7 linked regions of the Homo sapiens genome follow. The protein of the gene in region 7 purifies or fractionates together with the protein of the main gene of each other region. This does not show direct contact. Each region holds a gene or a part of one and is shown on either strand. Other genes may lie near its edges.

Region 1 (3,764 bases), about 97 Mb from region 7:
CATCATTATTGTAAAACCTAAGATCAGAGATTGAGATATTTCCCAGACCCTGCACTTGATGGATCAGCTGACATCTGCCATATCAGTAAACTGGCTCATCTTGTGGCCCCCACCCAGGAACTGACTCAAGACAGATTTGACTCCCTATGATTTCATCTCCAACCCAACCCATCAGCACTCCCAATTTACTAGGAGTGAACCCCACCCACCAAATTATCCTTAAAAACTCTGATCCTGGAATGCTCAGGGAGAGTGATTTGAGTGATAAAACTCCAGTCTTCTGCACAGCTGGCTCTGCATGAATAACTCTTTCTCTATTGCAATTCCCTTGTCTTGAATAAATTGGCTCTATCTAGGCAGAGGGCATGGTGAACCTGTTGGGTGATTACCTAATTCGACATATTCATACTCTTGAGTTCAAATTTATACATATTGTTAGGCTTTTATTAGTCAACTTTCACAACATATTAAGGATAGAAAGTTCTCTAAATCTTGGATAAAAGAGACAGAAGACACACAAAAGTTATACAGGCCAGGCACAATGGCTCACGCCCATAATCCCAACACTTCAGGAGGTTGACTCAGGAGAATCACTTGAGGCCAAGAGTTCAAGACCAACCTGGACAAAGCAAGACCCCATTTTTAGAAAAATTATTTTTTTGTTAATAAGTTATACAGTTGCCAAGGATTAAAAAGCAAATTAGTAGAAGAACTTTAGAAAGAAATCTAAGAAACTGATTATGGACTTCATCCACTGGACCTCACTTTCTCCCAGTAAACTGAAAAAATAACATTATTTTGAAAGCCAAAGACTGAGGAACAGAAACAGTTTTAAATGTCAAGAGGTCTTTATTGAAATAATAGCACAGTTACACTTCTAATACCCTTTCCACTTGTATACAACAGATGAAAAATGCTTGCTACATACAGTGCACAGACAGTTCAATAATGAGAACTAATACAACTGCATTTGAAATAAATAAAATAGCCTATTTAAATAATTTAAAGTAAAATTACTGTACAATATGAAAATAAAGATACATAAATGTTAGAATCTACAAAGCTGTAGAAATAAAATCATTATTCTGCATTACACAAAACAGTGCAAGAAAAAAATCCAAATAAGCTTTTGGAGTGCAAAGTTTAAATCTTCCATTTTAAATTATCATGCAGACATAGCATTTCAAGCCATGCTATGGTCTATGTCAAGGATTTTAATTTTTAAGGAGAAAAATGCCAGTAAATTTACTGTACCATCAAGTGTTGCATCACATAACTGCTGCTGCTCTGCTTCTACAGTTCAGTTTGGAAGGGAGGTATCCTGTTGCATTCAAAAAACTGAAGTTAACAAGTTTCTGAAGCAAACACATTTACCTTTTAGCCTGAAACAAAATTATATGACAAAATAATCATATCCCTGGGTTTAAGAAAAAAGGGCCTATACCATGTAGTAAACTAAGAAGCAGTTTTTCATTCATCTTTAAACTCCACAATGATCCTTAAGTGAAAGCAACCATGTAACTTTTGAGTGACATATATTATGGAATTCTGACCTCTAGAAGACAAGTGATAATACAATATGGGATCGTGAGAAGAGCAAAAGTAATTCTGAACACCTGGGAAGTTTAATCTGGGAGGAACTTGGTTGCATTACATTTAATAATATAGTTGAAGTATAATTCCATTTCAATGTGCATATAAAACTGTTATTTAGGCAAAGACCAAGGAATGCATTGAATACTAAACCGTAAACACATTGTCCATCCTGACTTGGAGTGCACACCAACAACTGAAGAGCTCTTCTGCAGACTTTGGCAACGAGACTACATATAGCAGGTCACAGCAGCACGAGCTCACATGGAAGACTGAAAGCACTGCGGAATAACACCACCCAACACCTCCTATCAGTGGGATACATGGTAATAAGGGGCCTCTTCGTGCTAAACCACTTTCCTGGACACTATGTTCTTCAGATTTGTAATTTTCACAACTCAGTAGTCTTAAGTCTCTGTGCTTTTGCTGCATAGACTGACATGCGGTGTGCTCTACCCATTGTAAGTCCAGAGGGTGACAGTTCTATCTGCAGAGGATGACAGGAAGGAAAGATCCTGGGTGTGCCATCTGCACTGAATCACTTTGTCCTTGTGCTCCCCCACCACCATGATAGGAAGCTGCTTGGTGAGGTCCCCTAAATTACAAAAGAGATGTTGATTTACAATGCAAAATAAGTATATGTATAGATTGTATAGACTTCCTGTTACTTTAAGACATTACAGTATAAAAAATCTTAAACTACATTAATATAATACATTGAAAGGTTTATACAGGGATAAATTACTACCTACCTAATTATGCTATTAGTATTTGCTAACATATACCCATACAGCAACATTTGACAAGTTGCCTCTCTCTCTCTCTCGGAAATTCTCTCAACTTGATTTCTCCCTGATTTCAGTGCCACTTCATCTTTTGCTAGTTTCCCTTTTCTTCTTGACGTAAAGCTTGGTGAATCCCAGGAGTCAACCCTCAGATTTCTTCTGTTCTCTCTGTACCTAACTTCCTAAAAAATTTCATCTAGCAACATGGCCATTTATATATTTACAATTCATACATATTTTATCTCCAATCTTGGTTCTCATCTGAGCTCCAGACTAGTATCCAAATAGTCATTCAATATCTCACTTGTCTGATAGTCATCCTAATTTAAACTTGTCTAAAACCAAACTCTTGGTTTTCTTGCCTAAACCTGTTCCTCCCCTTACCTGCCTCCCTTATCTCAATGGCACCATCTGGTTGCTCATGACAAAAACCTAGGAATCGTCATTGATTCCTTTTCCCCTCACTCCTCAAAGCTGATCCAAACAAAATATATCTCAAATTTAGTCATTTCTTACTACCTCCACCTCCACCACCCTAGTCCAAGCCACCATCATCTCACCTGAACTATTCCAACAGCCTCCTCACTGACATTTATATTTCTACTCTTGCCCCCTTACAATCTACTCTCCCTACAGAACCCCAAATTCTCCAAAAATATAATTCAGCTCCTATCCCTTCCAGTTAAAATCTTCCAAAGGCTTCACATTATACTTTTTAAAATGCTTATAGCCCACCAACTATAATAAATGTACCACTGTGGAAGGGGATACTGATAATGGGGGAGGCAGGCTATGCATGTGTGAGTCAGGAGTATATGGGAAATCTCCGTATCTCTCAATTTTGCTGTTAACCTATAACTGCTATTAAAAATAAAGCCCTTAAAAAAAATGTCTATAGGCCGGGCGCGGTGGCTCACGCCTGTAATCCCAGCACTTTGGGAGGCCAAGGCAGGCAGATCACGAGGTCAGGAGATCAAGACCATCAAGATCAAGGCTAACATGGTGAAACTCTGTCTCTACTAAAAATACAAAAAATTAGCCAGGTGTGGTGGCGGGCGCCTGTAGTTCCAGCTACTTGGGAGGCTGAGGCAGGAGAATGGCATGAACTGGGAGGTGGAGCTTGCAGTGAGCCGACATTGCACCACTGCGCTCCAGCCTGGGCGACAGAGCGAGACTCTGTCTCAGAAAAAAAAAAAAAAAAAGTCTATAAAACCCTGCCTCTGATTTATTCTTCTGTGTCTCTCTCTCTTAGTTCACTAAGTTCCAGGCACATTGGCTTCCTGTAGTGTCATGAACGTGCTAAGCTGGTTCCTACTTCAGCATCTTTATACTTGCTGTGCTCTTCTCCTAATATCCTGGCCTGGCTTGTTCCTCCTCATCATTCTG
Region 2 (4,069 bases), on a different chromosome or scaffold from region 7:
GCATTAACATTTTTTGAAAATAGTTTTACTTTTAAATTTGGTTACAAGGGAGCTTTTGTAATATGTCAAGTAATATCCACTGTGAACAAAGTAAGACAGCAAAAGAAACATGTTTGTCTAGAATTCACGAGAAAGTCACATGAACTCATGGGAGGGGGAAGCACAGAGGCACCAACAAGGTCAAGGTCAAGGTCATACCTGCTCAGCCAGCTTTCCCAGCCTGTTGGGCTGACAGAGGCCAAGGAGGCAGCAGAGTGAGACAGGGAGGAGACAGCCACAGGAAACACACACAGAAGCAGCAGCCACATGAGAAACACAGGGAAAGAGAGAGCAAAACCCACCTCTGTATCTTAAAGAGCAAACGTGAACATCCCATTAACATCATTTCTGCAATCATGTGTGGCATCCATACCCTTCCGACGTCTAGCAAGGAGGCCCCAGGCTTGCAGACGCAGAGCCGCTAACACAAAGGCCGGCACCCACGCTCAGCCACAGCCTACACAGGAAGCGAGCTCACAAAAGGCTCCCGCCCGATCTCCTCTGCTGCGTGACAAGGGTCTGAGGCTTGAGTGGTCAGGGGTCTTTTTGTGGTGAAGAGGGTGTGAGCAGAGCCCCCGCCCTGCCCTGCGTGCACTGCCACTGTGATGGGGAGGCACAAGGCCAAGCAAACACTTTGGAAACAGAGACAGACCTGCACTCAGCCCTGCTCTGGCACGGACAGGTGCCATTTCCTTCCAGCTATTCTTGTACTATGTGGGTGAATAAGGCGTTCAATATGTAGGGTTATCTAAAAAGCCATTTGGTTTTAAGATGTTTTTAGAAAGAAATGAAATTGAGATACTAGTACAAAATCTGGGCAACAGCTGTAGCTATCTGAGGAAGCAATAAACAGAACTGCCGTGAGCTCTTCAATCTCTGAAACTTGGTGCTACCTATGTTTTTTTTTTTTTTTTTTTTTTTTTTTTGAGACAGGGTCTCGCTCTGTCACCCAGGCTGGAGTGCAGTGGTGAGATCTTGGCTCGCTGCAACCTCCTCTTGCCAGGTTCAAGCGATTCTTGTGCCTCAACCTCCCAAGTAGCCGGGACAACAGGCGCGCACCACCAGCCAGCTAATTTTTGTATTTTTAGTAGAGACGGGGTCTCATCATATTGTCCAGGCTGGTCTCGAATTCCTGACCTCAGGTAATCCGCCTGCCTCAGCCTCCCAAAGTGCTGGGATTATAGGCATGAGCCACCACTCCTGGCCTGAAACTTGGTGCTTCCTTTTAATAAGACATTTCATGGTTTCAGAAATGAATTTGAGTCAACACAAATTACCACATTTATTAATGTTTCAATTTAATATTGCTAGATATCTTAAAACAGTAAGTTCAATCTTGCTTTAAGAACTTAGCTGTGTTTTATATCTAACTTAGAGAGTCTTACAGTTATTAGTCACTGTTCAAAAACAATGTGTTTTTTTTCCAAATAAGCCTTTCTCCAACTAGAATAGAACATCTTTAAAAATAAAACCCTTGAAGCTAAAATGTTACATGGAAATGAGATATCAAAGGCCCAGAGAAGGAGAAATAGATCAGGCGGCTACAAAACGGCACATTAACAACTGGGAAACTGGGTCTCCATGCTGCCAACAGCCAGCTTTCGAGAACCGCAGCCCCAGGCACCTCACCTGGAGGCAGATGGCCACGTTGACCCTGCACCCGAACGTGGTGCTTACGGCGCGGGCCGGCAGGCCCAGGTCCTTGAAGAGCTTGGAGAAGGACTGGGTCAGCGCAATCCTGGGCCGCTCCTCGGCGACCACCATGCACGTGCGCACACATGACAGGTTCACCCCCTTCATCTGCGGGAGGGGTGAGCGGTCAGGCCACGGCCACAGCTCAGTGAGTTGCCAGGGCCCTGGGCACTGTTTTGGGAAATCTCCGGGTGGGCACACAGAGGTGGAGCTGGACACCAACCTCCTCTCCGCAGGCTGTGTCTGTTCCACAGAATCCTACGTGTGGATGCGCTAAACGATTCCCATCTGACCTGCATCCCACACCTGCCCTCCCACGCGGCCAGACTTCCACCCCGCTATCTCGCAGGGACCCTGCCCTACCCCCCACCCTCCTCTCCTGCGGGGTGTGGAGCTGCAGAGACAGGTGGGCCGTGGGAGGACAGATGTGTACATAGGGCCCCTAGTGGGAAAGGGTTTTCTCTACTTCCTCCAACTGCAGGGAGGGGCCTTGGGAGTCTTGTTTTGTTTTGTTGTTTTTAAACTTCCCAGGGCTGTGGTCTGCAGCACACTCAGAAGCCCGGGTCTGGGCACTCACCCTGAGGACACCCGTCTGTGCGCCTAGGCCCTTGGTGCACATCTCCATCACAGAGTAGGAGCAGAAGGTGACGCGGGCCTTGTACTGGCTGACGGCCGACAGCCACAGGGACACGTTGCTCTCCAGCTCCAGCGGGGGCACCAGCACTGATTGGTGTCCCGAGTAGACACTGCGAGAGGGAAGGCTCGTGAGGCTCCGCCCGCCCACCCAGCACCCTGGGCACTCCACTCTTCCCTTCCTCAAGAACACTTCTTTTCCAGCCACAACAGGGGCATGATTTCTGTTCTGACGCCAAGTGGGGGGGTTTGGTGGAAAACATGCCACAGGGTGAAGGTTGGGGGATGGCAGGCACGGGGTTCTGAGCTCTGCTCCGAACACTTGGAGAGGATCCGGGGACACCACTCCAGAGGCATTCACTTCTAGAGACGGATCGCCACTTTCTAGTGTTTGAAGGAATCAAGCAGATTCTTCCCAAGTACTGATAACGGACAGTGTATTTAATGAAAAATGTATTTTCACTCAATTTCAGACTCAGACTCCAACCCACTTCATCCCCAAACAAACCCACTCACACACATCTCATCGGCTTCCTGAGCACCCAGAAAAGGTGCCTTAGAAGGCCAAGGTTCCTAAGAGCCACACGAGCTGCTCCCACCTGGCAGGCAGCAGGGGCCCTGCACTCACCTGCACAGACACCACAGGGCAAAACCAAGGCCACAGTAGGGGTCGAGGCAGATGGCGATCTGCCGCGAGGGGTACAGCTCACACTGCAGCTTTATGGAGCGGCATAAGGCGCTTGTGGCCGCGTGCGACATCTTAAGAGTAAAATAAAGTTCAAAAAAAAAAAGTGAAATGAAATTCAGGAGGGGAGAGGGTGGATGGCAGTGTCCGCTGTTCACATGGCTAGACCATAGCTCCGAACTACCAAACATCATATTTATTTCCTTAAAAGACGGTTGGCTCAAATCCCCATATAACCTAAATAATACCCAAGAAATGGTACACTAAAAATCTTTGAAACAAAATTTCAGGGTAATGAATTTTTAAAATTTTTTTCTTTTTTTTTTTTTTGAGGCAGAGTCTTGCTCTGTCGCCCAGGCTGGAGTGCAATGGCACAATCTCGGCTCACTGCAACCTCTGCCTCCCGGGTTCAAGCAATTCTCCTGCCTCAGCCTCCTGAGTATCTGGGATTAGAGGCACCTGCCACCATGCCCAGCTAATTTTTTGTATTTTTAGTAGAGACGGGGTTTCACCACGTTGGCCAGGATGGTCTCCATCTCTTGATCTTGTGATCCACCCGCCTCGGCCTCCCGAAGTGCTGGGATTACAGGCGTGAGCCACCACGCCCCGCCTGAAAAATTTTAATTGAGCTATTGACTCCCAGCAAGGTAAGAGATTCTTCAAAGCCACCAGTTCCTGTAAGCTAGACAGTCATAAATCAGAAAGTTTAGACATAACCATAATGCATCAGAAAACGCATTACTCTCAGGCTAATCACATCTTAGCATTTATTGGTATTTAACACAAATCTTAAGAAGCAAAATTGTTGCTTTGTGCTTTGCATAAGAAGGACCTGTCAGTTTAAATCTGCATCTGACATCCTTTCTGTCCACTCCTCCTGATTTCTAGGGGCTGAAGCAAACAAGATTTCAGAGGACCTACCTTCACTCCCGCTAATATCCCAGTGGTTGACACGCTGAAGTCCAAGTATGCGAGGACATCGGGGGAGGGGGGCCTGAAAACGCTTGCTATCTTCTTTTT
Region 3 (4,069 bases), on a different chromosome or scaffold from region 7:
GACTAGACTGATCACTTTGCCTGGCTTTCTAACAAATTGTAGCTTTTTTTTTTTTTTTTTTGCGTTTGCTAGTGAAAGGCATTTTCCAAACTGTTCCACTATGTACGTTAACAGTAAATCCCTTCAAAGAAAAGAGCATTTGTGAGTATTTTCAGTGGCAGCAAAGAAGTGGGAGGCCTTGGAGAAAGGAGAAGGAGCCCCCTGAGATAGAGAAGCAGGGGAGTCACAGCAAGGAGGGGAGAGCCAGCCAGAACTGGGAAATGATGTAGGGGCAGGGGCGTTGGAGGTAGGCCAGGTTTCCTGCTGTCCCTGCAAGAGCAGAGGAGGAGATCATCTGAGATCCACTGAGTCAGCCATCCACTTGACTTCCCAAGAGTCTGGACCTGGCCTCCTACCAGGGCATCTCGTTGATGGTGTGGTCCACAGTCTGCCTTATATATCCTGGGGCTGTGGCTTGGAACATGATTATGCTTAGAACATATTGCTTAGAACACGTTTATGTTCTAAGCAATCTGAGGTACAGTCGCTAATTTAGGAGCACAAAGTATTTCCTGATTTAGTATTCTACTTAGAAGGCCATTTGAACCTTGACAAACGTTTGTGAAATAATTTTCAAATATTTGAGCCTGAAGCAGATAATATCCAGGCTCAGTGGCACACTCCTATAGTCCCAGCTACTTGGGAGACCGAGGCAGGAGGGTTACTTGTGCCCAAAAGTTGAAGCTAGTCTGGGCAACATAGCAAGACGCCATCTCCAAAAATATATTGCATGAGCCAATAAATTCACTATTGAAACAATAAAACAGATAACGTCAAAACCGGTTACATGACCTTTTGTCAGCTCATGACTCTATTGTGCATTTAAAATTGCTATAAATTATTTGTTTTCCTTCACATTTAATTTTCTAAAATTTCTCCCCATGTTAAATCATAGTATCTTCCTAACTATTCAGTATTTGGCTTTGTTGGGCTTTGTTGTTGTTTGAGACAGGGTCTCACTCTGTTGCCCATGCTGTAGAGCCGAGGTGTGATCTCAGCTCACTGCAGCCTGGAACTCCTGGGCTCAAGCAATACTCGCACCTCTCAGTCTCCTGAGTAGCTGGGACTGCAGGCATACGCCTCCACACTCAGCTAATTTTTGTATTTTTTTTTGTAGACACGGGGTTTCACCTTGTTGCCCAGGCTGGTCTCGAACCTCTGGGCTCAAGCCATCCACCGGCCTCGGCCTCCCAAAGTGCTGGGATTACAGGCGTGAGCCATTGCAACCAGCCTTGATTTGTTGTTTTTTAAGTAGCAGGAGTAATTTCTTTAGCTGAAATGTAAGCATAGAGGTTGGGGTCTGTGTGCTAACCTGTGTTGTGTTTGCAGTTGTAATTTAGATTCGAGAAGTGGTTTATCCTTTGACTGGAAAAGAAAAGTAGCTGCAGTATTCCCCCAGCACTTGCTGAGAGCATGCCGTATGCCAGGCTGTGAGGCTCGAGAGACAAGCAGTGGAAGAGTTGCGGCCTGTTTCATCTCTGGATTGTAAATCTGAGCCTCCTTCTGGCCCCTGGAAGGGGACAGCATCACCATGGAATGGTGTGTCCCGTTGCCTGTTGGATCTGTCTCCATCTTCACTCAGACAGAAGGCTATAGAAAGATGCCTGTGACTTCAGGTGGCCTATTTGGCTGGCTTCTTATTGATTCCATAATCTGGGGTATCCACTTAGAGATCCAGAAACAAATACATCCAAACTGCCTTCCCAATCAGGGGGCTGGAATTCTCTTTCATCTCAGCAGGAAAAGAACAGGGTCCAGGTCCCTTAGTAAAGACAGGAGCCTCGGTACCAATCAACCAGCTACTAAAAGGGATTTCCCACAGAAAATCATTCTGTGCCTCTGCTTTCAGCCTTCTGGAAGAAAGTATTAGTAATAGTAGCCGGCCTCCCCTGAGCCTTCATTACAGCCAGGCAGTGCTGGGAATCCTATTTAACCCTCATGACAACTCTAGAAGGTAGGCACTCTTACCATCCCCATTTTAGTGTTGAGGAAACAGGCCCAGAGAGGTCAAGTAAGTTGCCAGAGGTACCCCAGGTCAGAACCGAGCAGTCTTACCCAAACCTGATCCTGGTAAATCCAAAGAAAGCACCTGTCCAGGATGTGGTGGGAATGGGGACAGATAAAAAAGTGCGAGTTTGGGGGTAGGTTGAGATTTGTTTTGGCGAATTCCAAGGCGGGAAGCTGTTAGGCACCGCTGACCACTGGGCGTTAAGATGCTTTGCAGAGGGCCGCAGGGGGTGGGCTCAGAGAGGAAAGGGGTTGTGCACAGGACCGCACAACTAACACATGGCAAGGATGAGGCACAGGCATCCCCGGCGAGAAACATTATGCCCATTTGAAAGAAAAGTTCAAAATAGGATATATTTTTATCTTGACTCTTTCACCAGGATTGAAGGTCATATCCTCACACAGAATAGCCTCCCTTCCTTTCCTTTGTATGGCTCAGCCTTTTCTGGGACAAGATATTGTCCCCACCAGTCATTTCCTCTATCTGTCCTCTGTGTTGAGCCAGTAGCCTAGGAACCCAGCATTCGATCCTGTGCCCCGCCTTAGGATTTCTCTGTTCGACTCCCCTGTCTCTGTGTCAGAGTCTCAGCTCCCTGGCCTGTGTGCCTGAATGCTACAAATAGACCATAAGCTCTTTCAGAAGCAGGGTTGTGTTTTACACACGACCCTCTCCCCTGCCACACACACAGTGTGCTAAAACCCAACAATGACTATTTATTAATTTTTCTGGATTGGATGAGGTAGGATGGTAACTTTTTTTTTAAGCTTTGTAAACTGGTTCAAGGACGATTAAAAATGATTTGCCTTGTGGGGTTGATGAGGATACCATTACATTCGTATTTCTAAACGATATTCTGGCATCAGAAACCAAAGGGCATCTGATTTGATAGATCCTGTGGTCGGACCCAGGAATCTGCATGTGTCCCATGTGACTTTTCTGCCCACTAAAGTTTGGGAAGCACAGCTTCAAATTGTTACTGATCACATCCTATAAAATCATAGCATAAATGACTATCTAGCTCTTACTCACGGTGCCCACTGCAGAAACGGTCCTACCAGTGTTGATGAATATTTATACAGTGTTGTTTTTCCTGCAGATTCCTAACCAGCATAATGCTGGAGCCGGGAGCCACCAACCTGCAGTTTTCAGAATGGCCGTGTTGGACACTGATTTGGATCACATTCTTCCATCTTCTGTTCTTCCTCCATTCTGGGCTAAGTTAGTAGTGGGATCGGTTGCCATTGTGTGTTTTGCACGCAGCTATGATGGAGACTTTGTCTTTGATGACTCAGAAGCTATTGTTAACAATAAGGTTTGTATCTCAACTCTTTTCTGGTAAACTTAACTGCCCAACTGTGTCTCAGTAATCATCTAAGTATGTGTTGCATTGTTCTCTGTGGAATGTAGGTTAAGCATTGGCCTGGGCCCCGATGGTGCTCTCGATTTTTCTCTCTTTTCAACATCGCCTCCATGATTTAGTGCCTTTCTTATTGCTGGCACCAAGGTTCTGAACCCCTGCCTCAGCTCAGGCACTCCCCTCAAGAGCTCCAGTCCACATATGGATCAAAGAGGCCGTTATTCTAAGATTACAAGGCAAGGGCATTGCAGGGTGTTGCAGACTTAGTATTCCAGATTTTGCAAAACATTTCCACAGTTGTTCAAAAAAAAAAAAAACCCATCACGCATTTGCTGCAGTGATGGACGGGTGTGATCACCTGCCAGAAGGTGCATCTTCAGCAGCAGGCAGGGAGCTGGCTGCCGCTTTGTCCTTCTCCGAGACTGTCGGGACAGCCTGCTGACAGCTGCTGGGGCAGGAGGAATGTGCTGCCCATGGGCGCTGCAGTTCCTGCTTGTTTCGTGTTTGGAGATTCGGTGTTGCTGAACTTGCAGAATCCCAGTCAATTTTGCTTACCAGTGGTTGCTATGTATCAGTGCAGGAAAAATGGTAATCTTTTTCCACTCCCTACCCGGAGTTAGGGCAGAAGAAAGAGGTTTGTGGGAAAAGATGAAAAAGATTCAAGC
Region 4 (4,069 bases), on a different chromosome or scaffold from region 7:
GCCGAGAGTGCGCCACTGCACTCCAGCCTGGGAGACAAAGTGAGACTCTGCCTCAAAAAAAAAAAAACAAAACTATGAGCTGAACCCAAATTCTAGAGGAATGCTAAAAGATACTGGACTTCCAAAAAGCCAGTGTGGCAAGACCTTACCGAAGACACAAAGACACAAAACTCCAACTGAAGCCCTGGAGAGGCCACACGCCTTGGGCTGCTCTATCCCTGGAGCTTCTCTAGAGGTGCTGGAGAGCTGCCCAAACAAAGCTTAGAAACAAGCTTCAAACAGACCAAGCTGACGCACAAGCTCATTACCTACCTGCGAGAATAAAACCCAAGACTCTAAGCTTAAAGAAAGACAACACAGGCAGGGCACAGTGGCTCCCGCCTGTAAGCCCAGCACTTCGGGAGGCCGAGGAGGGAGAATCGCTTGACCCAAGGAGTGTGAGAACAGCTTGGGCAACATGGCAAGACCCCATCTTTATATATATTTTTAAGTTATGTTTCAAGATTTAAAAGAAAAGATGGACATAATGGTTTATCAGATGGGGAATCTCTACAATAAAAAGCGTTAAATTCATTAGATGGGGCCGGGTGTGGTGGCTCATGCCTGTAATCCCAGCACTTTAGGAGGCCAAGGTGAGAGGACTGCTTGAGCCCAGGAGTTTGAGACCTGCCTGGGTGACATAGGGAGACCCCATCTCTACAAAAAAAAAAAAAAAAAAAAAAAAAAAGTAGCCGGCACGTGGCCCACGCCAGTAGTCTTGGCAACTCAAGAGGCTGAATGAAGCAGGATGATTGTTTGAGCCTGGGAGGTTCGGGCTGCAGTGAGCCATGACTGTGCCACTGCACTCCAGCCTGGGCAACAGAGCAAGACCCTGTCTCAAGAAATTAAAAAAAAATTCATTTGATGGGCTTCAGTATATTAAAAACAAGAAAGAAAAGAGTAGTGAACTTGAAGACAAGCCAACAGAAATCATCCAAAATGAATTGCAAAGATAAAGACTGAGAAAAAACAAACAGAGCTTCAGCAACGTATGGGACAATAAAGTTCCAGAAGGAAAGGGAGAGATCATGCAGAAAAAGTAATTTATAGAAGCAATGGCTTGAAATGTATTAAATTTGACAAAAATGATCATCCCACAGACCCAGAAGTTTAAAGAGCCCCAAGCAGGACGAAAGCAAAAACCACAATGGTCAAATTGCTGAAGCCAAAATTAAATGCAAAATCTTAAGGCAGAGAATCAAAGGGTGCCATTATACACAGTTTATAAGGATAAGAATCAACACCAACTTCTAAGCAGAAACAATACAGGCCAGAAAACAAAGTAATATCTTTTTTTTTTTTTTTTTTGAGGCAGAGTCTCACTCATGTCGCCCAGGCTGCAGTGCAGTGGCGCGATCTCAGCTCAGTGCAGCCTCCACCTCCCGGGTTGAAGCGATTCTCCTGCCTCAGCCTCCTGAGTAGCTGGGATTACAGGCACCCGCCACCATGCTCAGCTCATTTTTATATTTTAGTAGAGACGGGGTTTCACCATATTTGCCAGGCTGGTCTCGAACTCCTGACCTCAGGTTATCCACCTGCCTCAGCCTCCCAAAGTGCTGGGATGACAGGCGTGAGCCGCTGCGCCCAGCCTAGTAATGAGATCTTTTAAAGTGACATCAGTTTAACTGCTGAATTAAAAAAAAAAAAAAAAAAAAGAAGCAGCTGTCAACCTAGAAATGCATATCCAGAGAAAATGCCCTTTGCAAAATAAAGGCACCAAGATGTTTTCAGATAAACAAAAGCTGAGGGGATTTGTGACTGGCAGCTCTGCATTACAAGAAATATTAAAAATTCTTCAGGCTGAAGAGAAATAATAACCAGACCAGATTATACTGAAAGAATGAAGAATGTTATAAATGGCAAAAATAGAAGACTTTTTCCTTCTTTCTTAATTTCCTTAAAACAAAGTTGACTATTTAAAACAAAAACAGGGCCGGGCACGGTGGCTCACGCCTGTAATCCCAGCACTTTGCAAGGCCAAGGCGGGCGGATCACCTGAGGTCAGGAGTTTGAGACTAGCCTGGCCAACACAGTGAAACCCCGTCTCTACTAAAAATACAAAAAAAATTTAGCCGGGCATGATGGTGGGTGCCTCTAATCCCAGCTACTTGGGAGGCTGAGACAGGAGAATCACCTGAACTCAGAGGCAGAGGTTGCAGTGAACCGAGATCGCACCACCGCTCTCCAGCCTGGGTGACTGAGGGAGACTCCATCTCTCAAAAAAAAAAAAAAAAAAAAAAAAAAAACCATACTGGGTGTTTATGTCATACGTAAAAATAAAATGTGTGACAGTAACAGGACAGGAAAGGCATGAATGGACACACACTGCCGTAAGGCTCTTCTGGTGTCAACAGGGTGATGTAATTTCAAGTCAGATGATTATAGCCCCCAGCAACCCCTGAAACACAACACAGAGATGTACAGCTCAACTCACAGTAGACAGAATACTAAAAACACTTGTTTTTTAAAAAAAGAAAAGAAAGAAAGGAAAAAAAATCAAAGGGACAAAGAGAAAACAAAGAGCAAGATGACAGACTTAAACCCAGCCACATCAATAGTAACAGTAAATTAAAATGGGCTAAAAATTCCAATTAAAAAAACCCATTAGACTGGATAACAAGAAGACCCAACTACATCTACATTCTGTGTACAAGAAACTCACCTTAAACATAAACACACAGACCAGTAAAAAATACAAGAAAACAACAGAGCAAGCTGACACTGGTCATGACAAAGCTGAGTGACTCTGTTAGCACCAATGAGACCGCGTCAACTTTAAGACAATGAGCATCGCTAGAGAGAAAAAGGGACTGCTGTCTGTGCTTTGTGGGTCACCTCCATCACAAACCATGACTCCCGTACTCCCCCAAACCCTGTGCCCCATGCTAAGTCACTGAAATAAATGACTCATTTAAGCCTCACAACTTCCCTGTAAGGCAGGAATCAGCATTTCCACTTTCTGCACAAGGAACCAGAAGCTCTAAGATGCTTAGATAACTAGGCCAGGCACGGTGGCTCACGCCTGTAATCCCAGCACTTTGGGAGGCCGAGGCAGGTGGATCACGAGGTCAGGAGATCGAGACCATCCTGGCTAACACGGTAAAACCCCGTCTCCACTAAAAATACAAAAAATTAGCTGGGCGTGGTGGTGGGCACCTGTAGTCCCAGCTACTCGAGAGGCTGAGGCAGGAGAATGGTGTGAACCCGGGAGACGGAGCTTGCAGTGAGCGGAGATCGCGCCACTACACTCCAGCCTGGGCGACAGAGCGAGACTCCATCTCAAAATAAAAAAAAAAAGATAACCTCTAAGGCCACACAGCCAACAGTGGGGAGCTGAGTGCAGGTCCCCCCGTGGCCTAGGTCCAAGGTCCACACTCCTCTGCCTGCTCAGTCCCACAGAGACTCCGGGATGGCCCCAAAAGGTAGCACCACGCGCAGGACACTGCCTCAGGCCTTACACACCAACCCAGCCACCACCCAATCGCAGTCTCCTTTCTCCCTCCCAGGCATCTCTGCCTTGTTCAGTCCAGGCCCACCAGGGATGGCACAGTGAGGGGTAAGAGAGGCCTCAATGTCAACCCCAAGCTCTCAGGGCAAGAACCCAGAGCTGCTCACGTTAGGTGGGGCAGGCGGTCTGGCAGAGGGAGTAAAACACTGTCGTCTCTAAGGGCTGACTCCTCAACAGGTGCCTGAGCTGCTCAAAGCCAGGTCAGGGAAAACACACGTGCTCAGAGTGGAGGCTGTGTACTGAGACCTGAGGGTCTCTGATGACGGCCCTCCTGTCACTGTCTGGAAGCACCCACTGAGTGGTGCGGGGCCCTGGGGAGCCACAGCCACCCCAGGCCAGTAGGCAGTTCACATGGTGGGGAGACGGCAGGGCCACACCAACCCCCAGGGGTAACCGGACTTACGTGCATGTACGAGTGTACACACACACGCACGACCCTGGTGTCTGAGCGAGAGGAGGGGGGTGCCAGGCCAGACCCTGCTCTGGGATCACACGCACCTCCAGCAGGCGTGAGATGGCGTC
Region 5 (4,069 bases), on a different chromosome or scaffold from region 7:
AATTCATTCAGTTTGAACAAAAAAACCACCTTTTTTAAAGCTACATAAAAACTTTAAAGCCAAGTTATGAATCAAAGTAGGTACAACTGTACATTATACAAGATATATAATATCCTATGCTAGTTTAACAAAACCAGCATATGAAAATAAAGCACTGAGCAATATCTTTGTAATATAGCAAGAATGCTCTCAAACTAAAATGTGAAATAAAATTTGTTTTAACCTCACAAGTCAACTTGATTTTCACAGGGCATCCACAGTTTTCAAAGTATTAAAATATTCTTCAAATTTTTCTTGTATGACAAAAAAACTAAAATGACCCTCCTGTTTCTGCTCCAAACAAGCACCAAGAAAAAAAGTGCAAAGACACAGTGGTATGTCTCTTAGTTCAATTTTTGTTTCCTGGAATTAGCAAATTAAAGGGCTAAATGACAACAACAAAAAATTCAAAGGTGTATATTCCCAGGACCTATATAAATAGTAAATAGAATTAAAATGGCTAATATCAGAAGCAATAATTCTTGAAAGAATTATGGACAGGCAGTACATTTTGGGCAATCTTAAACATAAAACTACGGACTGGCAAAATAATTAGGAGGTTGAATGTTTTTAAATTAAAAGTTCAGGACAGCATTCCTTGAAATCACAGGAACCCATATCCACTAAGAACATGACTCAGTTTGCCAAAAATTATTTCATATATACTTTTCATTGGGATATTTTGCAATGCAGATTGCATTTATGTAATTTATATATAGACATTTTTCAATGAATTGAAGAGAAAAGATAGCAAAAGGAGAAGGAGAAGAGAAAGCCAAAAGGAGAAGTCAGCTGAAATACCAGACTTGCTCCCGCCAGCTATGCCCACAGGAAGGTGAGTGGGCCCTTTTGACCAGACAAATGAACAAAAAGACAGCATATAAATAACCAGGTTCATTAGGTCAGCGGTAGCTACAGTCTAAGTTTGTATGTTGGAAAGAATTCAGCAAATAGATATAATAGATTCAGCATGAGCAGTACCTGAAATGTACCTTAAATACTTTCCCATCTTAAAACTCATCATTATTGGTACATTTCATGCTCTAAATGATAAATTCTGCCTGTCCTACTTCCCTTTTAGGCTTTAGGGAAATAAATATTTTATTGGATGTTCATATAATGGTTTCAGACAGAAAATGGTAGGAGTTACTACTGTAAGCAGTTGCTACTGTAAGCAGATATCTGTAACTACTACCCAAAAAACATTATCGAATGTTCAATGTTCCATATTCCAGCTGGACCCAAGAATACAGTATCCTAAGCAAAATGAACCAGAGTGTACTTACCAAGCATCATACTCAAAGAGAATATATCAGTTTTATTTAGACTTTTTGTATCACTGAACACTCCAAGGAATACATAGAGAATTGACTTTCAAATATTCGGATTCCTATGCAGTTTTTCCATAGGGCAAACTCTTAACATTCTCTCCATATTCTCAAAGCCTCAATGAGCTACACACCTTACCTACAGGACGAGACCTCGAACAACATGGATTCTAAGGAAAATGTCCAATTATTGAGTAAAAAATAATTGAGGAACTGAGTAATAAGATTCCAGACAAGTAAAAAGGAAGTCAGTCTGCATCTTGGCCTGTGACCCTCTCTTGACAAAATTCACAGACCACTAACTATGATAAGGCCTCAAGCAGAAAGAGTGAGGACAGCCTATTTTAATTTGAAGGGTAAGGTAAAGGTACCAGCGCTTAGATCTGGTTTGATGGCCTCTGACAGAAGAGATTTAAAAGTCTGGATATCCAGTAACGTCACTTAGTGTCTGACCCCATGTTCAGATCTGTAATCCTTAACAGGCTAATTCCAAACAGGCCCCTGACAAGACCTCTAATTCTATTTAAATATACAAATCTATACCATCATTCCACAGCTTACCACCTTTTTAATTAAAAAGAGGAAAATAAAACCAAACAATAAATATGAAATGAGTTCACTGTCTGGTTATAAACACATGTGGAATATTTTATATTCTCATCTTTTGTCAGCTATTATCCTGTTAATGTATAACACAATAAATAGTGGAAGAAACTTTCTTAATAAAAGCATCACTACTTAGCCTGTCATTCTCTAGTAACTTCCTCAGCTTAACAGAATCATTGTGTGGGAGGCAGTGAGGGAAGATATCCTGTGTGAACTCAGTGAAGAAAGACCTCTCAGAATGGAGTACTCTACAGAGATAATTACAGCTTTGGGAAAATGTGCTCAGAATAAAGCCAAAGGGCTGGAATTCATCAGATTAAGAGAAAGTGGAAAGCAACTTAGTGATACACAACCTTATGTATTATGGCGATTCAATTTTATTTGCTTTTTTCCCATCTCCAAAACAAATACCAAACAAGATTTTAAGTGAGAAAAGGTAGAAAAGGTAAGATGAAGACATAGGTAAGCTAGCACACAAATGTAGGCCAGAAGGTTTATATGCTTGTTGGAGGTGGGCCACAAATCTTGCACTGAGATTTCAAGAAACCAAAAGTTAAATGGTAAAACTCCTAGGTACTATTTATAATGTCCAGAAGACACAAACAAGTTCAAAAGAACTATGTCTGTTATTGAAACATAAGGTCTCTCACCCTGTCTCTGTCTCTTTCTCTTTCTCATTTTCTCATGGCATAATATCTTGGGGAGCAGACACCGTGAAATGTATTGCAGAATATCCTCATCTGCTTCCCTGTAACAGCTCCCACAGCAAGATTTTTTATTATTTTACTTTTTGAGACAGGGTCACACTCTGTTGGCCAGGCTGGAATGCAGTGGTGTAATCACAGCTCATTGCAGCCCTGACCTCCTGGGTTCAAGTGATCCTCCCACCTCAGCCTACCAAGTAGCTGGGACTACAGGTGTGCACCACCATGAACAGCTAATTAAAAACAAAACAAAACAAAACAAAAAAACTGTAGAGATGAGGTCTCTTCCCTATGTTGCCCAGGCTGGTCTCCAAATCGTGGACTCAAGCAATCCCCCTGTCTCGGCCTCCCAAAGTGTTGGGATTACAGGTGTGAGCCACTGAACCTCACCTCAAAACAAGTTTTATGAGAATTTTTTTTTTTTTGAGATGAAGTCTTGCTCTGTCGCCCAGCTGGAGTGCAGTGGCGCAATCTCAACCTCCACCTCCCGGGTCAAGCGATTCTCCTGCCTCAGCCTCCTGAGTAGCTGGGACTACAGGTGCATGCCACCATGCCTGGCTAATTTTTTTTATTTTTAGGGAAGACGGGGTTTCACCATGTTGGCCAGGATGGTCTTGATCTCCTGACCTCTTGATCTACCCACCTCCACCTCCCAAAAAAGTGCTGGGATCACAGGTGTGAGCCACCACGCCCAGCCGAGACAATATTTTTACAGCCTCCTTCATTATAGTTTAGTGACATGAGGCCTAAAACAGTTTAATTCAAAAAGAATCCCACAAAGAACCAAAATTATTTAATAGTCTTCATCTTCAGTGAAATGAAACACCACCACCACCATATATGTATGCATATGTACATATATATGTATATCATATTTTAAGATATTAAATTAAAAGCATAAGTAAACATCCCAGCACTTTGGGAGGCTGAGGTGGGTTGATCACGAGGTCAGGAGATCGAGACCATCCTGGCTAACACAGTGAAACCCCGTCTCTACTAAAAAATACAAAAAATTAGCTGGGCGTGGTGGCGGGTGCCTGTAGTCCCAGCTACTTGGGAAGCTGAGGCAGGAGAATGGCGTGAACCTGGGAGGCGGTGCTTGCAGTGAGCTGAGATCGCGCCACTGCACTCCAGACTGGGAGAAACAGCGAGACTCTGTCTCAAAAAAAAAAAGTAAGTAAACATCCAGAAAGAAACTAGCAGTATAGGAAAATAGTGGAATAAACTTTTTGAAAGTCCTATCTATCAACAGAAGGCTTAATGTAAATAACTGATATTAAAATAGGCAAAGTGCCTAAAAAAGACATTTCTCCAAAGAAGACAAAAAAAATGGCCAACAGGCATATGACATGGTCCTCAACATCACTAATCATTAGGGAAATACAAATCAAA
Region 6 (4,069 bases), on a different chromosome or scaffold from region 7:
CTCTGTGCAGATTAATCTCTTTAAGTGGTATGCTGCTATACTTCCTAACCACAGTCCTTTGAACTTTGAACTTTAGTTCAGATACGTTAAAAAAAAGTCACAGTACTGACTGGCTCTTCTCTTACTACTAAAAGTGCCTCTGAATTTGGGGGTATTTGTTATAGAATCTGTAGCTGTCACTAAAATAATTTCTTAGAATCAGATATTTTAGATTCTTGTCTAGTTTACTGCTATCAGCTCAAACTTTGTTGGTCATATGTAGAGGGGAGGAAGGGTGAGACTCTGGGGAATAACCCATCTCCAGGGCTAACACTCAGACCTCGGGTGATATTTGTTACTACAAGTTGAACATTCCTAATCCAAAAATCTGAAATGCTCCAGAATCCAAAACATTGTGGGCACCGACACGATGCTACAAGTGGAAAATTCCACATGACCGATGGTCACAGTCAAAATGCAGTCAAAACTTTGTTCCATGTGCAAAATTATTAAAAATATACTATAAAATTACCTCCAGGCTATGTGTATAAGGTATCTATGAAACATAAATGAATTTCGTGTTTCAACTTGGGTTCCCAGCTCAAGAGATCTCACTGTGTACATGCAAATACAGAAAAATATCAACAAATCTGAAATCTGAAACACTTCTGGTCCCAAGCACTTCAGATGAAGGATCCTCAACCGCAGGCGCCCTTGCTTGTTTTGTATAATAGTACTGCTGGGATTCAGGAAGCACACATCTTTATGTTGAAAGGAAAAGGAAATAAAAGCAAGCCAAAGCCAGTGCTCCTGCCTCACCCATCAAAGGAGCACTGTTTTACCTGGTTGGTAGAAATCAGGTGACAGCTCCCTGGCCACAGCTCTCGCGATGTCGCACTCCTGGCGAGCGGCCAGCGCGGCCTGGTCGGCGGCATCGGCCTTCGCTCTGGCATGTGCAGTCCTACACGGGGCACAAAAGGACGAGTCAGCATAGGTGACCCCTTGTTACTTACACAGGGACAAGCAAATTGTAATCTGGGAAAAGAAATGTTAATTATGATTATGGCCCGACACCCACAAGAGCAAAAATTTTAGAGTCCTATTGCCGTGAAATTTCAATGAAGATGACATAGATGAAACTAAACTACCCATGAATTGCCTTAGCCCTTCTCTCAAGGGAAATGAAAAGTAAGAGCAAGGTCTGTGTAGCTTGATGCTAAGTGTGGTTTTCAAAACTTACTGGATCAAATCTCCTGTTGACTTTGGTTGGCATTCCTCCCCCCCACCTAAAATTATGGAAAGTAGAATTAGAACATATAAATTAATAGTGTTTATCAAATTCATTTCTACGGTACAATCAATGTAAGAATTTGACTAAGAAAGATCTGCCCACTGGCATGCTGGTGAAGTAGCTCTTTGAAGAAAAAAATTAGTGAAATGGGGATTGGTAGTGTTTATTCATATCCATGTGTAAATGTTCTCACCGTGGCCAATTTCAGGCTACCAGCATAATGCCGTTGGATGTGCAGTGGGGAGATGTGCACTATTGGTGCTCACCAGCAGGAGCAAACCACAAGGCCCGCTCTAAGAACATGCTCAGAAGGGTTCCTGAGGAGCCCATTTAGCTGACTTTTAGGCATGTTTCTTGTATGAACCAAAAAGGAGACAGCGAGGCAGAACTGGCAAGGATGAAATGGATCTTTCAGTCTTCCATCGCCTCCCTGGCCTGTCCTCACTCATGGAAACCTCTCATCTTTCTGGAGGACTAGGGTTATGCGGAAAGTGGCAGGAAAAAGAATAGGGCTTCTTATGGCTGCACCAGGGAATGATGTCTACTGGCCCCAGAGAGGGTTGGAGGGAAGAAAAAAACTCTGGTTTATCTGCTCTGCAAAGGGAAAGGCCTTGTCCCGTTAGTCTTTAGATGTTTATGGGTACCTATTTCTTATGACTTTGTAAATTTTCTATTATATTTTATTAGCACTAGGCAGGGCTATAAATAACTAGCAGTGAAAACTTAATGGAAGTCTGAAAAAGGTGCTTACACTTATGTTGGAGACAGCAGGAGAGAGGAGGAGTTGGGAAAAGGCATGGGCTTTGGATGCTCTTCAGGGAGAACACACGGGCAGCAGCTGGAGGAGGCTGGCAGGCGGAGCTCCTGGGACCAAAACACGGAGGCACCGGGCCTGGCCTGAGACAAGGGGGTCTACTGGTAGGAGGCCCCCTTTTCACATTACTCTCTTCAATAACCTCCTCTTGTCCTGTGCTCTCACGGGACTCCTTTCACTTCTATTTAGGATCTAAGCAAGCCTGAAGGCTTGATGTATTAGAATGTAAGCTTTGTGAAGATTGGAATTTTTAATTTTTGGTCCTCTGTCATAATCCCAAAGTGCAGAACGCTACATTGGCACATACTATTTATTGAGGGACCACTTTATGAATAAAGGAATGAATGATGCTTCCTTAGGAAAAGCTGGGTAGTTCTTAAAACTGAATGGAATGACAAAACCATAGAGACAGTAAAAAGATTCAGAGTTGCTAAGAGTTCGGGGTGTAGTAGGGAAGAATGAATTGGTGGAAAGGAGGGCATATCTGGGGGAGTTTAATTATTCTGCATGATACTGTAGTGGGGGACATTACATATTTGTCAAAATCTATAGACTGTACAACACAAACAGTGAATGAAGCCTGATGTAAACTATGGACTTTAATACTAATATATTAATACCGGTTCATCAATTACACCAAACGCACCTCAAAATGCAAGATGTTAATAATAGGGGATATTGTGTGTGTGCATGAGGAGAGGAGGTGTATGGGAACTTTGCAGTTCCTGTTCAATTTTTCTGATAACTTAAAACTGCTCTAAAAAATAAAGTCATTAAAAATGAGTGGATCAACTTCGAATCATCAAAACTGCTATTTCTAAACCATGGAGGATGCTTTAGATTATTTGTGTATGGGGTATCAAGAAATATGAAATGGAAATAACATCAAGAGGGGAGGGACATATTCTTAAACAACTGGCTGTTGGAATAACCCCTCATGGGTGCCATTGCTGAGGTACGATGGGTAATGCCTTAGTCCTGTGTGTTGTGCCTGATAATCAACAGATGCCCTCCGCTAATGTTCTTTCAGTTTCTCAGAATCTAAACTTTTTTCCCCCAAATGATTTTCCATTTTGTCCGCTATTCTTAGCCAGAGCCTAATTATGTCTAGGTGTCATAATTAATGAAGCCATAAGAGTATAGCTATGCTGCTTTATAATACTATCTATTAGCCCTTTAATGATAAATTTACAAAACTCAAGTACAAGTAACTTATTCGGATTCAATCACGACACACCACCATACAGTCAAATAAAACAGCAGTAGTATATCTACCACTTTTTATAATATGCTAAACTAGAGAATAGACAAATACAGCTTAACCTTTCTGCAAATATATTTTGGAAGCACAGCATCAGTGAAGCCTGCTAGTACTTAACCCTTTACTTTTTTACTTGCTGTTTCCTATAAGACCACACAGCAAAGGAGGACCTTTCTATCCAGCCCAGCTCTGTGGCTCAGTGCTACTGTATAGCTGGCCAGATGAGTCAAGACCACATTCAAACCTGAATCCTGAAGTCTGCTCAAGAGCTTTTGGAACCGATGACAAGAAGGAAGAACAGAAACCCACTCTGAGTTTGCTGTTAACACCAGCCTGTACAGCTAAGGCCACTGGCATGTCTAGATTTTGCCCAGGAATAATCTGGACTTGTCTCTGGCTCATGTTAGTGAATTCATGTGATCACATCCCAGGCTCAGTTCCAGAGTGACACACGACCCCTGTAATCAGTCAATTGCGATTGTTCTTGCGTTGGGGGGTGGGATTCAGGTTAGGCAGTCTGGAGAGATAAGCTGAAACCACTCAAACTGGATGCCCTGATGCTATTGCTGGTCACAGGCAAAAAATGCATACACCAAAGGGGAATACGTGCCCCAAAAGCATTTCATTTATCAAAAGACTGTGACATTTTACAAATCTTCAGACCCTCAAGAATCTCCAAATACCATTATCACAAATACTTTCTCCCATCAAATGCAGTAAAAAG
Region 7 (4,069 bases):
AGATGGCAGCAGTATAGTCCAGCTTTGGCTTGGCGTGAGAGGGAGACGGTGGAAAGAGAGGGAGAGGGAGACCATGGGGAGAGGGAGAGGGAGAGGGAGAGGCAGAAAAATCTTTTTAAAACACAAGCCATGCTTGAAACTTGCCGTTTTCCAAGCCCCCTCCTAATAGTGAAGAACCCTGACTCTCCCCACATCTTTGCTGTGATCCTTGCAACCCCCCAGTTCCATTCCAGACACATTCATCTCCTCGCTTTTCTTTGACCATGTCAGGTACACGTCTACCTCAGGGCCTTTGCACTGCCATTCCTCCTGCCTGAAATACTCTTTCCCTATTTATCATCAGGTGTCACATTCTTACCTTTCTTTTAGGTCAAATGTCAGTAAGGCCTTCCCTGAACACCTGATACAAACTAGCAACCCACTCTTACCTCTTACAAGGAAGTGTAGGGTAGGGAATGCTTGCTTTATTTCCCCGTAGCACATCCCACCATCTGACATTTTGTGTGTTTATGTGTTTCTTTGTTCGTTCTAGAAGGTAAGCTCTGTGAGGACAAGGCTTTGTCTGTTGGGATCACTGCTGTATTCCCAGGACCTAGATCACGGAAGTGCTTAATGACTACTTGTGAATGACGAAAAGAAGGAGTAAATCAATTGTAAAGTTCCAGTCATCTACCACAGTTCCCACGGGAGCTGTTCCTGGCCAGTGGTGACACACAGCCCACTTCCCGCTTGGCACTCCTCCCCCGTCCCCTTTCTCAGGTGGCCCCCATGCTTCCTGGGAGCTCACCAAGTTCCTCAGTAAGAAGCACTTCCCAGGCACCTGCAGCCCCCCTATGCCTCCTCCTCCACATCTGGCATATTGTCCAGCAGTTGTATTGTGCAGACACACGAGGCAGTCAGCCATGCACGTGATCACAGATACAAGCATGACTCCTAAGTTGACACCCATGGGGTGTTAACTCCTGACAGGGTAAGACTGGAGAGACAAAAGCAGCTGGACCTGAAATGGTCTGAATCCCCCTCCTCGGCCCTTTTGCCTCAGGAGGGGCAGGAGCTCAGAGGGCTTCCTTGTTGGCCAGGCTGTCTCAGGAGCCTGCCTCTGGGGCTGGGGGTGATCTGGACGAGCATGTCCTGTGTTTCTTGTATGTCACTCCTTTCTATTAGAACAGTACTTTGATTCTAATAAATCAGAAGAAATGTCTAGCCATCCACCTCCATCAGAATATGTTTTACGTTTTATTTTTATTTATTTACTTTTTTTAGAGATGGAGTCTCACTCTGTTGCCAGGCTGGAGTGCAGCGGTGTGATCTTGGCTCACTGCAACTTCCGCCCCCTGGGTTCAAGTGATTCTCCTGCCTCAGCCTTCCAAGTAGCTGGGATTACAGGCATGCACCACCACACCTGGCTAATTTTTGTATCTTTAGTAGAGACGGGGTTTCACCATGTTGGCCAGGATGGTCTTGATCTCTTGACCTGGTGATCTGCCTGCCTCAGCCTCCCAAAGTGCTGGGATACAGGTGTGAGCCACCGTGCCTGGCCTATGTATTTTTTTTTTTTTAAACACACACATAAATCTAAAGCAAAGGGTATGCCAAGATTCAGCTGGGGCCAGGTCTGACCCCCACTCTGAGCATCTCATTAGCTTCCCATCAGTGGAATACAATGGAGACATATTCCACTTGGTCTGGCAATGTCCTCCTGGGGTGATGAAAAGGGGGCATGTTGGTGTAGACAGCAAAGTCGTCCTCCTTCTGGGGAGCCAGGTTGATCACGTTGGAATATATGGCATCAGCATGGCAGGAAAGATCCTTTAGAGATAGAACCCTGGTTAGAGGCAGATGGCTGGGCACCAGGGACTTCCAAAGACAAAACAAGGCATTGGGCTGTCCCTACAGGACAGCAAGTAGAATGCTGAGTTCTTGCTGCACAAGCCCTAGATCTCAGTTTTCATAGGCATTTCCTCCAGATCTGCCCCCCGCCTCCTCCCACCACCCTCTGTGTGGGGTCTAGGTAAGGAAGCAGCCAGAAGGCCAGGATCCCCCTCTCTACATGCGACTGGACTAGTTCCTTACCGAGGACTTGTGGGGAAAGTTGGTCTGATGCCTCAGTTGTTTCTTAAATAGTCCTAGAAAAATGGATAAACTCAGAGTCAGTCTGAGTTGGGTTAATAACCATCTTTACTTGGTTGTTTGCTGGGTTTAGGGCTTAACTTTGAAATGCAAAATCCACCACACTCAGCCCATTGGGCCTCTGAGACTAAGTTAAATTCCCAGGAAGACACAGGGGAAATGAGTACGCTTTATAATTTATAATTTTGTTTATTATTTAGAAGAGATTATTTGGCATCAGTATTTCTTTTAGCTGAGGCATATAGGCCATAAGCATATATGCAGATGGCTTATACTATATATAGCTTTCAGCATGAAGAACTTGTGTGATGAGTAATTCTTATTGCTGTGTACAGAGTCCCCAGCAAGTCTAGAGAAGAGGTCTTATCTTCATATCTCCTTCATATTACCCTCCCACTACCCGCTCCCCTCCCCGACAAGACTGCCCCATAGGAAAAACACCCCAATCTCTGCCCCCAGTTTCTCCTCTCTTCATTCCCAGTTCCAGGGCCAGCTTGTTCAACTCACTCTCTTGCCTCCATTTCTTCAGGGTCATGGACAAGAGACCCACCAGGAGCAAGATGAGGGACACCACAGCAATGGAGCCAGAAAGGGCTGTGGCTGCTGTGCTTAGGCTGAAGGAAGCAACTAAGAGACATGAGGACCATCCAGCTGCTCTGGCTGGCTTTGGTGACCCTCCACAAAAGTGCCCTGGGGCCTCCTCACCCATGTAGAAGCTCTCCCACTTCCAGGCTTCACCTCCTTAGTGGCCAACCATCTCCTGCCTCCATTTTAGCCCCTCTTTTCAGCTCTAGCCTCCATCACCATGGCCCCCACTCACACCAATCCCCACAGATCCTTCCCCAGGAGCCCACCTTCCTCCTTCATGGATCCAGCCCTTCTCTCACCCACCTGCTGAGTCCTGCAGTGTTAGTCTCTGGCTTCAGGGTGGTGATGTTCTCTGCATAAGGGGAAGGAGAGGAAAGTAATACGAAGGAGATAGGAAGGTAATTCTTGCACACCTATGCAAATGAGCTCTACAGAATCCTAAATGGTAATATTAGCTACTGTTTATTGTGAACTTAGTATATATTGGGCACATTCATTATCTTGTTTAATCTTCATATATAGACCTGAGATAGGAACAATCATTATTCCTATTATACAGTAAAGAAAAACAGTTCTTGAGGATCACACTTGCTCAGGGTCATAGGGCTGGTAAGTGGCAGAGTTTGGACATAAACCTCCATCTCTCTGACTTTAAGTCGTGTGTTCATACACAGTATATTCTGCTGCCTCCATGTGATTGTTTCACTCCAGAGCTCTACCATTCTTACCAAGGGTTAGCAGATATGACAGGAGGTCCAGAAAAAGAGATAACCAGGATGTGCAGTGCTAGGTACCTGGGGGAGGGCATGTGAGAGGGGTTGACAGGATCAGGACATAAGCAAGGCCAGTAGAGCTACGGCTAGGAAGAGGTGGCAGGCGTGGGAGCCTGCCCATGCTCTGGTGGGGAAGGGGAGAATTATTCACACCAGGAAAGAATTTCTCCTGCCTCGAGGGATGGAGACACAAAGTCCATCCCCTCTCCAGCCACATTCTGTCCATAGATTCTCAGAGCTAAAAGGAATCTTAAACCCTCCCATTGTATAGGTGAGGAATCTCAGGGGAAGGCACTTGCCTGAGGCAAGTGCTGTAGCCAGGACTGGAGTCAGGCATTTTGACTCCAAACCCAAAGCTCTCTTTATCTGCATTCAGTCTCCTTCCTGTTTCTTCCCCATAAAGTGAAGCTGCATGATTCAGCCCTATAGCAGATAGCACCCCTCAGGCCACATGTCTTGGGGAGCTGGCTGTGCAATGCAGAGACTGTGGCCAAGGTGGGGTGGGGGGAACCCATTGGATCACTAAGGCAATTTACTAGCCACCTTGGATAAATAGCATCTGGGAACACAAAAGTACC

The links.
Region 1: the proteins of RHEX (region 7) and WDR47 purify together in Homo sapiens (affinity purification with mass spectrometry; 3 studies listed by BioGRID and IntAct, with this or other methods). This does not show direct contact.
Region 2: the proteins of RHEX (region 7) and DIP2A purify together in Homo sapiens (affinity purification with mass spectrometry; 3 studies listed by BioGRID and IntAct, with this or other methods). This does not show direct contact.
Region 3: the proteins of RHEX (region 7) and TMTC4 purify together in Homo sapiens (affinity purification with mass spectrometry; 3 studies listed by BioGRID and IntAct, with this or other methods). This does not show direct contact.
Region 4: the proteins of RHEX (region 7) and SBF1 purify together in Homo sapiens (affinity purification with mass spectrometry; 3 studies listed by BioGRID and IntAct, with this or other methods). This does not show direct contact.
Region 5: the proteins of RHEX (region 7) and PLXDC2 purify together in Homo sapiens (affinity purification with mass spectrometry; 3 studies listed by BioGRID and IntAct, with this or other methods). This does not show direct contact.
Region 6: the proteins of RHEX (region 7) and JPH1 purify together in Homo sapiens (affinity purification with mass spectrometry; 3 studies listed by BioGRID and IntAct, with this or other methods). This does not show direct contact.

What each region holds. Positions count from the first base shown.
Region 1 is NC_000001.11:108,969,385-108,973,148, forward strand, and holds the end of WDR47 (WD repeat-containing protein 47), read right to left. Parts: intron 2,189-3,764; coding exon 2,046-2,188; 3' UTR 830-2,045; downstream 1-829.
Region 2 is NC_000021.9:46,555,993-46,560,061, reverse strand, and holds part of DIP2A (disco-interacting protein 2 homolog A), read right to left. Parts: coding exon 3,971-4,069; intron 3,660-3,970; coding exon of another isoform or gene 3,633-3,659; exon of another isoform or gene 3,224-3,632; intron 3,124-3,223; coding exon 2,993-3,123; intron 2,478-2,992; coding exon 2,309-2,477; intron 1,840-2,308; coding exon 1,669-1,839; intron 229-1,668; coding exon of another isoform or gene 199-228; intron 1-198. UniProt on the Homo sapiens protein: Catalyzes the de novo synthesis of acetyl-CoA in vitro. Promotes acetylation of CTTN, possibly by providing the acetyl donor, ensuring correct dendritic spine morphology and synaptic transmission.
Region 3 is NC_000013.11:100,667,869-100,671,937, reverse strand, and holds part of TMTC4 (protein O-mannosyl-transferase TMTC4), read left to right. Parts: intron 1-1,368; 5' UTR 1,369-1,575; coding exon 1,576-1,578; exon of another isoform or gene 1,579-1,655; intron 1,656-3,143; coding exon 3,144-3,359; intron 3,360-4,069. UniProt on the Homo sapiens protein: Transfers mannosyl residues to the hydroxyl group of serine or threonine residues.
Region 4 is NC_000022.11:50,450,467-50,454,535, forward strand, and holds part of SBF1 (myotubularin-related protein 5), read right to left. Parts: coding exon 4,046-4,069; intron 1-4,045. UniProt on the Homo sapiens protein: Acts as an adapter for the phosphatase MTMR2 to regulate MTMR2 catalytic activity and subcellular location. Promotes the exchange of GDP to GTP, converting inactive GDP-bound Rab proteins into their active GTP-bound form.
Region 5 is NC_000010.11:19,822,704-19,826,772, reverse strand, and holds part of PLXDC2 (plexin domain-containing protein 2 isoform 1 precursor), read right to left. Parts: intron 1-4,069. UniProt on the Homo sapiens protein: May play a role in tumor angiogenesis.
Region 6 is NC_000008.11:74,258,564-74,262,632, forward strand, and holds part of JPH1 (junctophilin-1), read right to left. Parts: intron 941-4,069; coding exon 822-940; intron 1-821. UniProt on the Homo sapiens protein: Junctophilins contribute to the formation of junctional membrane complexes (JMCs) which link the plasma membrane with the endoplasmic or sarcoplasmic reticulum in excitable cells.
Region 7 is NC_000001.11:206,059,402-206,063,470, reverse strand, and holds part of RHEX (regulator of hemoglobinization and erythroid cell expansion protein), read right to left. Parts: intron 1-4,069. UniProt on the Homo sapiens protein: Acts as a signaling transduction factor of the EPO-EPOR signaling pathway promoting erythroid cell differentiation.